4 linked regions of the Homo sapiens genome follow. The protein of the gene in region 4 purifies or fractionates together with the protein of the main gene of each other region. This does not show direct contact. Each region holds a gene or a part of one and is shown on either strand. Other genes may lie near its edges.

What was found. The genes of interacting proteins can lie anywhere in the genome.
Region 1: the proteins of PELI1 (region 4) and RBBP8 purify together in Homo sapiens (affinity purification with western blotting, with the first as the bait; one study listed by BioGRID). This does not show direct contact.
Region 2: the proteins of PELI1 (region 4) and TICAM1 purify together in Homo sapiens (affinity purification with western blotting, with the first as the bait; one study listed by BioGRID). This does not show direct contact.
Region 3: the proteins of PELI1 (region 4) and DEAF1 purify together in Homo sapiens (affinity purification with western blotting, with the first as the bait; one study listed by BioGRID). This does not show direct contact.

The regions. Positions count from the first base shown.
Region 1 is NC_000018.10:22,992,328-22,995,827, forward strand, and holds part of RBBP8 (DNA endonuclease RBBP8), read left to right. Parts: intron 1-420; coding exon 421-1,312; intron 1,313-1,393; coding exon 1,394-1,520; intron 1,521-3,500. UniProt on the Homo sapiens protein: Endonuclease that cooperates with the MRE11-RAD50-NBN (MRN) complex in DNA-end resection, the first step of double-strand break (DSB) repair through the homologous recombination (HR) pathway.
Region 2 is NC_000019.10:4,825,213-4,828,712, forward strand, and holds part of TICAM1 (TIR domain-containing adapter molecule 1), read right to left. Parts: intron 1-3,500.
Region 3 is NC_000011.10:678,223-681,722, forward strand, and holds part of DEAF1 (deformed epidermal autoregulatory factor 1 homolog), read right to left. Parts: intron 2,868-3,500; coding exon 2,741-2,867; intron 1,595-2,740; coding exon 1,466-1,594; intron 601-1,465; coding exon 472-600; intron 1-471. UniProt on the Homo sapiens protein: Transcription factor that binds to sequence with multiple copies of 5'-TTC[CG]G-3' present in its own promoter and that of the HNRPA2B1 gene. Down-regulates transcription of these genes.
Region 4 is NC_000002.12:64,141,621-64,145,884, reverse strand, and holds the start of PELI1 (E3 ubiquitin-protein ligase pellino homolog 1), read left to right. Parts: upstream 1-1,464; 5' UTR 1,465-1,804; intron 1,805-2,358; exon of another isoform or gene 2,359-2,567; intron 2,568-4,264. UniProt on the Homo sapiens protein: E3 ubiquitin ligase catalyzing the covalent attachment of ubiquitin moieties onto substrate proteins. Involved in the TLR and IL-1 signaling pathways via interaction with the complex containing IRAK kinases and TRAF6.

The DNA of each region.
Region 1 (3,500 bases), on a different chromosome or scaffold from region 4:
TGGGATTACTGGCGTGTGCCACCACACCCGGCTAATTTTTGTATTTTTAGTAGAGATGGGGTTTCACCATGTTAGCCAGGCTGGCCTCGAACTTCTGGCCTCAAGTGATCTGCCCACCTTGGCCTCCCAAAGTGCTGGGATTACAGGCATGAGCCACTGCGCCTGGCAAAAGATGATTTTTTGTATAATAAAGTTATTTAAAGTACTTAGGAAAAATTTTTAAAATATGAATATTATGGTGTTGAGAAATACTTCCTATGTCATTTTCCTCTGCTTTTCCCCTTCTCTTTTGTCATCTAAATGAAGAGAAGCCAAAAGCTGTACCTTGTCTTAAATTTTGGTTAATCATTTGCTTCTAAGAGGTAGATAAGACCTTACTATTAATTCTGTATTAAAGAATTGTTATCACTCTTTATTTAGATTTTCAGATTCTACTTCAAAGACTCCTCCTCAAGAAGAATTACCTACTCGAGTGTCATCTCCTGTATTTGGAGCTACCTCTAGTATCAAAAGTGGTTTAGATTTGAATACAAGTTTGTCCCCTTCTCTTTTACAGCCTGGGAAAAAAAAACATCTGAAAACACTCCCTTTTAGCAACACTTGTATATCTAGATTAGAAAAAACTAGATCAAAATCTGAAGATAGTGCCCTTTTCACACATCACAGTCTTGGGTCTGAAGTGAACAAGATCATTATCCAGTCATCTAATAAACAGATACTTATAAATAAAAATATAAGTGAATCCCTAGGTGAACAGAATAGGACTGAGTACGGTAAAGATTCTAACACTGATAAACATTTGGAGCCCCTGAAATCATTGGGAGGCCGAACATCCAAAAGGAAGAAAACTGAGGAAGAAAGTGAACATGAAGTAAGCTGCCCCCAAGCTTCTTTTGATAAAGAAAATGCTTTCCCTTTTCCAATGGATAATCAGTTTTCCATGAATGGAGACTGTGTGATGGATAAACCTCTGGATCTGTCTGATCGATTTTCAGCTATTCAGCGTCAAGAGAAAAGCCAAGGAAGTGAGACTTCTAAAAACAAATTTAGGCAAGTGACTCTTTATGAGGCTTTGAAGACCATTCCAAAGGGCTTTTCCTCAAGCCGTAAGGCCTCAGATGGCAACTGCACGTTGCCCAAAGATTCCCCAGGGGAGCCCTGTTCACAGGAATGCATCATCCTTCAGCCCTTGAATAAATGCTCTCCAGACAATAAACCATCATTACAAATAAAAGAAGAAAATGCTGTCTTTAAAATTCCTCTACGTCCACGTGAAAGTTTGGAGACTGAGAATGTTTTAGATGACATAAAGGTTTGTGTTAAATGTTCAAGGATTTTGATTAAAATGATTGCTTGTGATTTCATTTAGAGCTAACAATTATTTCTGTTTTAGAGTGCTGGTTCTCATGAGCCAATAAAAATACAAACCAGGTCAGACCATGGAGGATGTGAACTTGCATCAGTTCTTCAGTTAAATCCATGTAGAACTGGTAAAATAAAGTCTCTACAAAACAACCAAGGTGTGTACACCATAAACAGGATCTCCACTTTTTTAATGACTTCAGATTGAATGTCATTATTTACTTTTTTAAATAGATTGAATTGTTTTGGAAAAAAACTTATTTCTTCCTTCAGGTGTCTGTATTTATAGGACGATTCTCACATTTTACCGGTGATTTTTCTGTTCTTTTTTTTTTTTTTTTTTTTTTTTGAGACGGAGTCTCGCTCTGTCGCCCAGGCTGGAGTGCAGTGGCGCGATCTCGGCTCACTGCAAGCTCCGCCTCCCGGGTTCACACCATTCTCCTGCCTCAGCCTCCCGAGTAGCTGGGACTATAGGCGCCCACCATGCCCGGCTAATTTTTTTTTTTTGTATTTTTAGTAGAGACGGGGTTTCACCACATTAGCCAGGATGGTCTAGATCTCCTGACATCGTGATCCACCAGCGTCGGCCTCCCAAAGTGCTGGGATTACAGGCGTGAGTCACTGCGCCCGGCCACTTATATACGTTTTTAAACTCCTTTAAAAACATTGTTGGCCCGGTACGGTGGCTCACACCTGTAATCCCAGCACTTTGGGAGGCCGACGCTGGTGGATCACGATGTCAGGAGATCGAGACCATCCTGGCTAACGTGGTGAAACCCCATCTCTACTAAAAACACAAAAAATAAGCCAGGCATGGTGGCAGGCGCCTGTAGTCCCAGCTATTCGGGAGGCTGAGGCAGGAGAATGGTGTGAACCCGGGAGGTGGAGCTTGCAGTGAGCCGAGATCGTGCCACTGCACTGCACTCCAGCCTGGGTGACAGAGCAAGACTCCGTCTCAAAAAAAAAAAAGAAAAAAAAAATTGTTTGCCTTAAGATATATAGGCATCTTTTCATAATTTTGCTATATTTTATTATTATTATTATTATTATTTGAGACAGGGTCCTACTCTGTCACCCAGACTGGAGTGCAGTGGCATGATCACGGCTCACTTGCAGCCTTGACCTCCCAGGCTCAGGTGGATCCTCCCATCTCAGCCCCCTGGATAGCTGGGACTACAAGCATGCACCACCACACCCAGCTGATTTTTTTATTTTTTGAAGTGACTGGGTTTCGCCTTGTTGCCCAGGTTGGTCTCGAACTACTGGACTCAAGCCATCTGCCTGCCTTGGCCTCCCAAAGTGCTGGGATTACAGGTGTGAACCACCCACGCCCAGCCTGCTATCTTTAAAAAAGTAATTTTTTTTTTCAGCCACCAAACATTTCTGTAGTTCAAGTGCAGTATTTTTTCTTGTATTCTTCATTGGCAAGTTATTCCTTTATTCTGGGTTTATTTTCCCTTTTTCCTGAAGCACAGTCATTAGTTGTTTTTCCAGTGAGTGTTTTAGTCTCTATATGAAAACATTTTTTTCACTATCATTCATGATTTTTTTTGAGCTTTTTGTTTTTATTTTTTTCATGGTTGCTCTAGGGATTACAGTATCTACCTACTTAGCCTTTTACAATCTACTTGGAGTTAATGTACTATTTCATGTTCTGTAACTACACTTTATGTAGTTCCTGTGTATTTTATCTACATATATTGAAAACCCCATCAATGTTATAGTTTTTAATTTTAAAAAATTTTAATTGAAATATAAATCACATACCATAAAAATCACCCATTAAAATGTTCAATTCAGTGGTTTGGTATACCCACAGAGTTGTACAACCATCACTGTAGTCTAGGTTTACAACATTTTCATCACTTTCCTTCCCCATATACCCTCTGCAGTCCTAGGCACCTTAAATCTACTTTCTCTCTTTGTAGATTTGCCTATTCTGGGAGTTTTCATATAAATGGAATCGTTTAATATATGATCTTTTGTTACTTCTTTCACTTGGCATAATGTTTTCAGTTATCTGTGTTACAGCATATATCAATATTTTATTTCTTTTTATTGGATAATTTTTTATTGCATAAGTATACCATATTTTAGGTATTTATTAGCTGACATTCAAGTTGTCACTTTTTTGCTAT
Region 2 (3,500 bases), on a different chromosome or scaffold from region 4:
GAGGTTGCAGTGAACTGAAATGGCGCCACTGCACTCCACCCTGGGCGACAGAGCGAGACTCTGTCTTAAAACAACAACAACAAAAAACTACCTATCAGGTACGACAGTTATTACCTGTGTGATGGAATAATCTGTACACCAAACCCTGTGACATGCCATTTAGCTATATAACAAACCTGGATATGTACCCGTTAATTTTTGTATTTTTGTAGAGACTGGGTCTCCCCATGTTGCCTGGGCTCAAGTGATCCTCCCACCTTGGCCTCCCAAAGTGTTGGGATTACAGGCGTGAGCCACCGCGGCCGGCATTTTATCTAATTTTTAATTAATTAAGGCAGGGTGCAGTGGCTCATGCCTATAATCCCAGTACTTTAGGGGGCTGAGGTAGGAGGATCTCTTGAGCCCAAGAGTTCGAGACCAGCCTGGGCAACAGTGAGACCCATCTCTACAAAAAATAAAAATAGGCCGGGTGTGGTGGCTCACGCCTGTAATCCCAGCACTTTGGGAGGCTGAGGCAGGTGGATCACCTGAGTTTAGAAGTTCGAGACCAGCCTAGCCAACACAGTGAAACCCTGTCTCTACTAAAAATAAAAAATATTAGCAGGGCATGGTGGCAGGTGCTGGTAATCCCAGCTACTCGGGAGGCTGAGACAGGAGAATCGCTTGAACCGAGGAGGCAGAGGTTGCAGTAAGCCAAGATCACACCATTGCACTCCAGCCTGGGCAACAAGAGCAAAACTCCATCTCAAAATAAAGAAACAAACAAATAAATAAATAAATAAAATTAAAATAAAAATAATTAGCTGGGTGTGGTGGTGCATGCCTGTGGCCCCAGCTCCTTGGTAGACTGAGGTCAGAGGATCGCCTGAGGCCAGGAGAATCAAGGCTGCAGTGACCGGAGATCGCGCCACTGCACTCCAGCCTGGGCAATAGAGTGAGACGCTGTCTCAAAAACAACAAAATAAAAAAGGTATGGAAGATGCCTCATTCGTAATGGAACATTATATTGGACCATGTTGGGTATATTGAGTTAAATAAAATATATTATTAAATGCATTTACATATTGGATTAATAAAATGTATTATTAGGAGATATATATATATATTTATTTATTTATTTATATATTTTGGAGATGGAGTCTTGCTCCATTTTCCAGGCTAGAGTGCAATGGCATGATCTCGACTCACTGCAACCTCTGCCTCCCAGGTTCAAGCGATTCTCTTGCCTCAGCCTTCCGGGTAGCTGGGACTACAGGCATCCGCCATCATACCCGGCTAATTTTTGTATTTTTAGTAGAGACGGGGTTTCACCATGTTGCCCAGGCTGGTCTCGAACTCCTGACCTCAAGTGATCTGCCAGCCTCGGCCTCCCAAAGTGCTGGGATTACAGGCGTGAGCCACTGTTCGCGGCTGCTTCATGTTATATTTCTGTTGGACAGCACAGTTTTAGACATCTCCACTACAGTCCAGTAATATTGGAGTATGGCCCCTTTTTGACACAAGGAAACAGAGGTACAGAGAAGTTGAGTAAGTAGTCCAGAGTCACACAGCTCATAAGGGATACAGCTGGATTGGAACCCAGGCTGTCTGGTTCTAGAATCCACTGAGCTTTTTGGCTCCTTTTAACATTTTCAGATTTAACACAGACTCCAGCTTATGTGGACCTGGTTATGGGGCCTGAGAAACAGCCTCACCTAGTTTTAATTAAACTAATGTTCAGGAAATAAGCATATGGCCTAAGTACTCCTCTAGAGAAGTGGAGGATAAAAGGTTTTTCCTAATAATCTTAGGAAATAATAATAATAATAATAATAAAATAATGCAGGCACAATCGGACAATAAGAAAAAGGCCAGACGGCCGGGCGCAGTGGCTCACGCCTGTAATCCCAGCACTTTGAGAGGCCGAGGCGGGTGGATTGCCTGAGGTGAGGAGTTCGAGGCTAGCCTGGCCAACATGGTGAAACCCCGTCTGTACTAAAAATACAAAAATTAGCCGGGCATGGTGGCGCAAGCCTGTAATCCCAGCTATTCGGGAGGCTGAGGCAGGAGAATCGCTTGAACCCGGGAGGTGGAGGTTGAACCCGGGAGGCGGAGGTTGCGGTGAGCTGAGATCATGCCATTGCACTCCAGCCTAGGCTACAAGAGTGAAACTCTGTCTCCAAAAAAAAAAAAAAAAAAAAAAAAAAAAAAAGAAAAAGGCCAGATGCCCAGCTTCTATCTCTGTTGTAAGCTCTACATAAAATGGGATAAAAATGAAAATGGGCTGGGCGCGGTGGCTCACGCCTGTAATCCCAGCAGCACTTTGGGAGGCCGAGGCGGGCAGATCACGAGGTCAGGAGATCGAGACCGTGCTGGCTAACACGGTGAAACCCCGTCTCTACTAAAAATACAAAAAATTAGCCAGGTGTGGTGGCGGGCACCTGTACTCCCAGCTACTCGGAAGGCTGAGGCAGGAGAATGGTGTGAACCTGGGAGGCGGAGCTTGCAGCGAGCCGAGTTGGTGCCACTGCACTCCAGCCTGGGTGACAGAGTGAGACTCCATCTCAAAAAAAAAAAAAAAAAGATCCTATATTCAGGTGGGACCACAAGTCGGCCAAAACTTTTTGAAATGATCAAGACAACTACTTGGAATACGGTCCAATACCCCCACCCCCCGTTAAGTTCGATGATCCACGAATCAACTGCTCTTCCCACCTCCCGGTGTTTCCTGGGAACGGTTGTGTGTATAACTTACCAAGCAAAAAGCAAACATACATTGGCACGTACCCTCCAATTTTTAGCTGATAAGAGGGCATAGATGATAAAGTGTGGAGAAGGGCCATGCTGGGACAGGGTAGCAGTGGGGCTGGGCGTCATGCTGAAAATTCATTGAGTTTAACACTTAGAATTCACACTCTTTTTTGTTTTTTTTATTTTTTTTGAGACGGAGTCTCGGTCTGTCTCCCAGGCTGGAGTGCAGTGGCGCGATCTCGGCTCACTACAAGTTCTGCCTCCCGGGTTCCCACCGTTCTCCTGCCTCAGCCTCCTGTGTTGTTGTTTTTTGACAGGATCTTGCTCTGTTACCCAGGCTGGAGTGCAGTGGTGTGATCATAGCTCACTGCAGCCTCAACCTCCTGGGATTAAGAAGTGATCCTCCCACTCAGCCTCCCAAGTAGCTGGGACTACAGGCACATGCCACCATGCCCAGCTAATTATTAATGTTTTGTAGGGACGGGGTCTGGAACTCCTGGGCCCAAGCGATCCTCCCACCTTGGCCTCCCAAAGTGCTGGGATTACAGGTATGAGCCACTGCACCCAGCCTACATGTCAGTAAAATATATATACATATATATATTTTTTGAGACGGAGTCCCACTTTGTCGCCCAGGCTGGAGTGCAGTGGTGCGATCTAGGCTCACTACAGCCTCCGCATCCTGGGCTCAAGTGATTCTTGTGCCTCACTCTCCTGAGTAGCTGGGATTACAGGAGCCTGCCACCACGCCCAGATAATCTTTTTTTTTT
Region 3 (3,500 bases), on a different chromosome or scaffold from region 4:
GCAGTTAAACGAAAAATCAAAGTTAGAATGCATTTACAGTGTATCGTCATTTTAAAGATTTAGGCCACATTTAGGCCTTGGTTTTTCTTTCTTTCACCAGATACCGAATGTCTATGCCAGCTCTGGAGAGACCAAGACCTGCCACTGGGGAGTGTCTACCCTCAAGAGGACAACAGCAAACTCACCAGAAAGAACTTCAGGCTTCACAGGCCAACTGGTTTCTAGGGGCGTGCCCTGCTGCTGTACCAAAAGCAACTTCCACAGCACACACATGAATGGACGTGGCTGTGTGTCAGTAAAACTTTATTTACAAACATAGGCAGTGGGCCACACTTTACCAGCCACTGATCTAATGCATCAACAAAAACAACAAACCAAACCAAAATGAATCCCATTTCACTTAGGAATTCTTTCATTGGAAGCAATTCTGAGGACAATAACCTGTACATGTGTGAATTCTTTCAAACCTACCTATTTTGGGATGTGACGTTGGCAACGCAGCTTCTGGAAACGGTGCGATCTGGCAGCTGTCCTGATAGCCGGGGTAGTGAGGCTCAGGGTGGCTGGCCCTGCATGGGGGCTGCACGCTGGCCTCTTGGACTGTTGGGGAGAAAAAGGACAGGGAGGCTCGGGATGGTTGTCCGCACAGCAGACTCTAAATATCACGCTGTATGGCTGCGCCATTCAGTACACATAGTAGCTTATGGCCACACGTGGCTACTGAGCCCCTGAAATGTGGTGATCCTGAATCGTTGACATAATAGGATTGGGGCTATATCAGGTGAAATAAAATAGATTATAAAAATCAGGCCGGGCGCGGTGGCTCACGCCTGTAATCCCAGCACTTTGGGAGGCCAAGATGGGCGCATCACGAGGTCAGGAGATAGAGACCATCCTGGCTAACATGGTGAAACGCTGTCTCTACTAAAAATACCAAAAAAAAATTAGCCGGGCATGGTGGCAGGCGCTGTAGTCCCAGCTACTTGGGAGGCTGAGGCAGGAGAACGGTGTGAACCCGGGAGGCGGAGCTTGCAATGAGCCGAGATCATGCCACTGCCCTCCAGCCTGGGGGATGGAGCGAGACTCCACCTCAAAAAAAAAAAAAAATCAGTTCTAACTCTATTTTCCTCAGTGTGGCTTCTAGAATATTCTCCAGCACACAACCAGCTAGGCTGCATTTCTGTTGCACAACTGCAGTCAAAAGCAGGAGCCGGCAGACAGAGAGTATTTTCAGCTTTGCCAGTTCTGGCATCTGTCACAAGTAACCCACTGCCACACGCCAACCCCATCCACACTGCACCGCCCACCTGACGTGGCTCACACGCTGTCCCCACCAACAAACGCCTGGTTCAAGGCCCCTCTCGAGGCACCCAGCAGCCTATGCAGCCCAATGTGGCGTCGGGGATGTGATGTCACAGACAGGGATATGCTGAGGACGCGTCAGGCAGGCACTGGAGCAGCTCACCTGTGGCCCCTGCGAAGACGTCGCCCTGGGCCGGACTCTCTGATATGACAGCAGTGGCCTCTACCGTGGACGCTCGGTCAAAGGTCAGTGCCCCCGAGGTCGTGATCTGTCCCGAGGGGGTCACGGTGACTGGAAAGGCAGAAGCACATTTCACGCGGCCAGGCAGTGGCGCCCACGGCACACAGGTCCCGTGCCACCCACGGGCGCCAATCCTTGTGGGGGCCTGGGCTGAAGGGCGGGCAGTGGTAACTGTACCCTCCCATGTGAAGGACACGGGGGAAATCCCAGACCTTGGAGAAGACCTCACAGGAGAAAACCAGGATGGCCAGGATGGCAACTTGCCACTACCAATTGTTCGCTGTTTAAACTGTGAACCATGGAAATGTGCTGCCCAGCCAGAAAACAAACATAAAATAAAACTTTCAGTGATTTTTAAGTACTTCGTGGTTCGAATTAAGAAAAAATCTTTAATCCAAGCTGAAGGTAAAAAGCAGCCGTGTCCCACAGCAAGGCTGCCCTGTGTCCCACAGCAAGGCTGCCTCTCCAGCTCAAAAAAAAATCCTGGCGACAGATCTTGAGACTCTGCTGCTGTGGGACTCTTCCTGCACCCACCACCCAGGGCCTCAGGAAGGAGCTGACAGGGTGTTTTAGAAAGACCTTACTCTATAAATGCAAAAACCCAGACTTAGTTAACAAAAGCCTATTACAAAGACATTTTCTCCTATTGCTACCTCTCCCCATTTAAATCCTGTCTGTACAAAAAAATAAAAACATTAGCTGGGCATGGTGGCACGTGCCTGTGGTCCCAGCTACTTGGGAGGCTGAGGTGAGAGCAGTGCCTGAGCCTGGGAGGCCGAGGCTGCAGCGAGCCGGGATCCTGACGCCGCCCTCCAGCCCGGCCACAGAGAAAGACCCACAGAGCTCTCCGCAGCCCTCGTCCAGCGCACTGAGAATCCCTCACCAAGGACGCCCTTGTCAGGAAACGTCCCCTGAGCGTGTGCTGGGCACTCAGCCATGCTCACTCATACTAGGAAACAGCCCAGGACAAGGCCAACAGTGTCCGGGTCCCAGGGAAGCAAGACCGAGCTGGGCACTGGGACACCCCTTCCCACCCGGGGGACGCACTGCAAAGGAGTGTGATGGCGTTGGAATCCCTCTGGCCACGCAATGTGCTTTAGAAGTGAGAATCCCGCAGTGGCCGTGGGAGTGGTGACGAGAGAAGGCAATGCACTCAGGTCCCCTCAGTAAACTAGAGCTGTGTTTTCTCAAACTCACAGGTGGTAGCCGCGGTGGCTGGAAGCAATGTGATGTTCTTGGGGGAGTCCTTCTTCACGGGAGTTGTGGGCAGTTCATTCTCCTTCTTGCGCCTTTTGTAAGGCACAAAAAGCCTGACTGGGCCACTCTGGGGGAGAAAGGAGAGAGGCCACCACCTTCATGTGTGCAAAAGCTATGCTGCGCTTGCAACTCCTCCTTAAGTGGGGGCACCGCGGGGTGTGTGAGTCACATGGTGAGACCACATTAAGATGGTAAGCGCCCCTAAAGATCCCACCTCTTTTTCTTTTTTGAGACGGAGTTTCACTCTAGCTGCCCACGCTGGAGTGCAGTGGCGCCATCTTGGCTTACTGCAACCTCCGCCTCCCAGGTTCAAGTGATTCTGCGTTAGTCTCCTGAGTAGCTGGGATTACAGGCATGTGTCACCACACCCGGCTAATTTTCTTTCTTTCTTTTTTTTTTTTTTTTTGAGACAGAGTCTCGCTCTGTTGCCCAGGCTGGAGTGCAGTGGCACAATCTGGGCTCACTGCAAGCTCTGCCTCCCGGGTTCATGCCATTCTCCTGCCTCAACCTCCCGAGTAGCTGGGACTACAGGCGCCCGCCACCAAGCCTGGCTAGTGTTTTGTATTTTTAGTAGAGACGGGGTTTCACCATGGTAGCCAGGATGGTCTCGTTCTCCTGACCTCGTGATCTGCCCACCTCGGCCTCCCAAAGTGCTAGGATTACAGGCGTGAGCCACCACGCCCGGCCGACTTTTTTTTTT
Region 4 (4,264 bases):
TTTGTGCTTGATGCTCTCCCCAACACCACCCCCAATGCTCTCACCCACCTCTCTCTTCCTCCTCCCCTACCAAAATACACAAACATGTTAATTCCTAGTTATCTCAAGTGATCTTTGAAGCATTTCCTGATTTTGCCCACATCTGTGGGTAGCTTTGCATTTTCCTATTGTAGTACTTCTCAAATTAAGTCTATTTACCTGTCTCCTCCTTTGCATAGTAAGCACTCTGAAAATAAGAATGTTTCTTTTACATTTTTGTATCTCTATTTCTGGGGCTCAAAACAGTGCCTAGCACAAGTAGACACTCAACAAGCATTTTTTGAATGAGTGTATAATTATATAGTCTGTAGATATAAGGATTTCTGATCTTGAGACTCTCTGAAAGCCTTGCTCCAAAAGTGTGTCTGATTCCTAAGCATTAATCTTTTTCTTCCAGGGTGTGGGGTTCTAGGTAGGTGGAGAAGGAAAACAAAAGCGCTCAGGACGCGTTGCCTTTAGCTCTCCGGAGAGCCAGTAATGTGTCCTGCCTTTCTCCACCCTCCTCCCTACCACCTTTCCACACCTGGGTGCCCAAGATGGGTGTAGACTTAGCTGACCAGCCCAACAACATACTCATACCTTGGTTCAGACTTCTCTTATTACCAAACTAAAGTTGGCCAATACACATAAACAATTTTCAACTTGTCTTTTGAACGTATACTTTATGAAATTTGTATGTCTTAAAAATTGTAGGCCTTAAAATGAACGAACCCGGATTCTTTTATAGTAATCAAGTAAAATATAGGGGTCTTAATTCTGTACTTTGCCTTTGCTAATCTTAAAGTTAGATGTGACTAACTGAGCAAAGTAATTAATTACGGGACTTTGATAGTGGTGATATTCCTAAGTTTTATAACCTAATTGTTCAATTACTGGAAACAACTACATTTCGACAAGTCTTAGGTAAAGAAAATTGAATTTAGCCGGAGAAGATTCAATTGAGGGAAGTGAGGGACAGAGGTATTTGTGATTTAGGGTTTGTGGAAGATAAATTACGCAGCAGGGAAGACTGAAATATGGAGAGAAAGTCAGACCTCACTGGGTACTTATGACTGGTAAGGCTAGGAGTTGGAGGTGGAGAAAAGTAGGAAGGACCGTCTAAGGGTTGGATCCCCAACAACACCATAATACAAGACCGTCCTTGTTCAGCCAACAGCAGCACTGAACACGTTCGCTAAGTGTGTCGGTGACCATGGTAACGGTGGGAGGGGGCGGTCCAAACCTCGCCCTCGAGCATGCTCAGTGCAGAGCGAGCCTGGTAGGGTGCTGGACAACAATGAATCCCTTTTTTCTTCAACCGGAGAACTACAATTCCCAAGAGCCTTCTCGGTGCGGCGACACCGCCTTCCGCTGTGGCCCTGCCCGGTCCCCTCCCTCAGGCCCCGCCCCCCGGCTAGACCCCTCCCCTCCTTGCGAGTGTATGTCAGTGACCCAGAGGCGGTGTGAGGCGGAGGGACCGTCGGGGGGCGCCGCCGCCGCCTCCACTAGCAGCAGCGGCAGCAGCCCTAGTCCCGCGGTGCGGTCGAATTGGTCCCCAGCCCTCCGGGAGCGCACCACAAAGCAGCCCCAACGCCTCTCCCTGCGTCCGCGGCTCCTCAGCGCTCGGCTCCGTGGTCAACTTCCCCTCGCTGGGCTCGGCTGGCGGGCGCGGAGGGCAGCGGCGGAACGGCGGGCTGTCTGCTCGCGCTCCCCGCGCACAACACTTCACCCTCTCGCCTCGGGTCTCGGGGGCCGCTCTGGGATCCCGGCCACCAGCAATTGTCCGGTAAGTGTGACCGCGGGGCGCCGCGGGATGGATGGCGGCGGGGCCGCCGAGGGGCGCGGGGAGGGCGGGCGCGCAACTTCCTCGGCGGCTTCCCCGGCGGCCAGCAGCCGGCTCTCCCCGCCCGCCTGCGCGCCCCCGCTGCGGCGGGGAGCGGAGTTTGCGGCGCCTGCATCCCGCGCCCTGGCTCGAGGAAGCGCCTTTGTCAGGAACCGGCCCTACGCGGCCTCCCCCTCCGCCCGGGAGCGGGGCGCGCGGCGGCCAACTCCGAGCCCCGCGCCTGGCTGGCCGCGCGCTCCGGCTGCGAGAGGGGAGCTCTGCGGGTGGCGGGGAGGAGAGGGAAATGGGAGAAACAAAAGGGGCGGTGGGTTTCCCTTTTGTTTGTGCGGATCTGATAACTTCTTTTCCTCCCTTACATAACGCAGACTTCAAGTTAGTCATTCTTTTTATTGTTATGATTGTTGTCATCATCTCTGCGCGTCTTTCACATTTCCTTTCATCTTTGGATCTCAGAGCATTTTAAACACGCTAATTAATTTCACCCCCGGGTCCCCTAGGAAACAAGTTAATACGCCCGTTTCCCTAAGTGGGTAAACTGAGGTCGTGAAAAGCTCTCAAATTGATGGATACGCTTGATCTTCTACCGCGCCTCGTGTCTGAGTATATGAAAGCGTTTATGAGGAAGAACCCGTTCTCCAAAGCCCCGTGGAAAAGTTAAAGATGCTCATTTTACTTACAGGTTAACTGAAGTCCAAAAGATGTCTAGGTAATTGTTACGTAGTTCAAACCATAATTCTTCTTACATAGTGTTTGAATCTTAAAACCTCTAAAGACTTAGTGAAAAATGCTCCGAGTAGGGAAATTAATGTAAATCATAAACTCACGTCACCATCTACTTTTATTTTTGTACGTGCAGGTCTGTTAGAGGCAAGAGAGCAAGAAGGGGACAGAGGGCAGAGGTTTTTTAAAAATGTACATTTAACAGATTTTAATCACTACACACAAGGAAATGTGCCTTGGTTTTAACAGCACCAACAATATTCCTGTCGTTTAGTCATCAAACAGTATATCAACAAATGTTATTGAGAACTTTATTCATAAGGTGCTGGTTGTGCTAAAAACTGAAGCTTTATATATAAGAAAAGGTCATCTGTTTCGGTTCACAGGCTCTTTACTTTTTCTTACTCTGCAAAATGTTACTTTGTTTTCATTGCACATGATCTTTTGTTTCAGAAATGGCATTGTCCTTTACTGTGTCGAATATGTATTACTCTTACACTTAAGGATAAATGAATTTATTATTAAGTTTTCATAATAGGGTGAATTTAAAATATTTTAATTGTGGTAAAGGTTCACTTTATTCAGTTCTGTTTCAGTTTACGATGCGTTTTCTTTATAGCCAACAAAATATTTTCTGAGTGATAAGATTTACATGTCTCAAAACATTGTTCTTAGTGTACAAATACAGCATATGAATTCCTTGTTTTTTTTATTTATACCAACAACCTCTTCTGGGGAAAAGTCTTTAACTCTGAGGACCTTATTTATTTTGTGAGTTTTTATTTCTTCGGTACCATACTGGAAAGCACCAAAAATTTAAACCAAGCATCACTTCTACTAGCTCTTTCCTCAGGTAAATAATAATCAGAACTGTAGTAATAGTGAATAGTTTCACTTACTCTAAATTCTCTTAAATTTAATTTTGTACTATATAGTTGTCCTTACATTTTAGATTTTGGTGGTTGCATCAGAAAATGAAAGTGAGATGTTCGTTATTTTATTTTTTTTCCCAAAGCCTTCTAACCTGTTCCCTTTCTATAGTATGTTAAAAGAGATCTTGAGTTTAAAATAAATAATTGGAAAGTAGAACAGTTATATGTATGGAAAGTTGCATGTAGTGAAGTGGTTATAGTGTCTCATGTAGTGAATGTACAGGTTTTAAAGAGGAAACTATCACCTAGCTTTTTATTAGCATGGTAGAAGTGCTGTAATGTAATAGTAGTAGTATTTATTTGCTTCTAAAAAGTAAGCTGGAAATTTGCCTCAGTGGAATTTGTAGGGGGAGGGAATCCATTCTTTCCTTAAGATTGGCATTTAAATGTTCTTACAGTTGGTTATGTTGAACTTTTTCTGTGGTATTTTCAAGCCAGATTTACCAGGAACATTTGTACTTCAAGGAAGCTACTAACACTGTCTTGGCTCAGTCACTGGAATCCACAGGCAGAAGTTAGTGTTGACTGGCAAAGTCTGGCTTTGCAGGTTTCATAATTTCTTTGAGACCCCTTAAAGGAAATGACTGAAAAGTACGGGGTAGGAAGTTAGTCTAGTACTGCCAAATGCCACTGAGGCAAGTTTCAAAGGGGAAGCCAAAGGATGTTTCCATTTGATTTAAGTTCAGCCTCTTCTGGGTTGTCAGAATGTCACTTTTGTATTTTAAGAGTTCTATCATTTCAGAATATGATG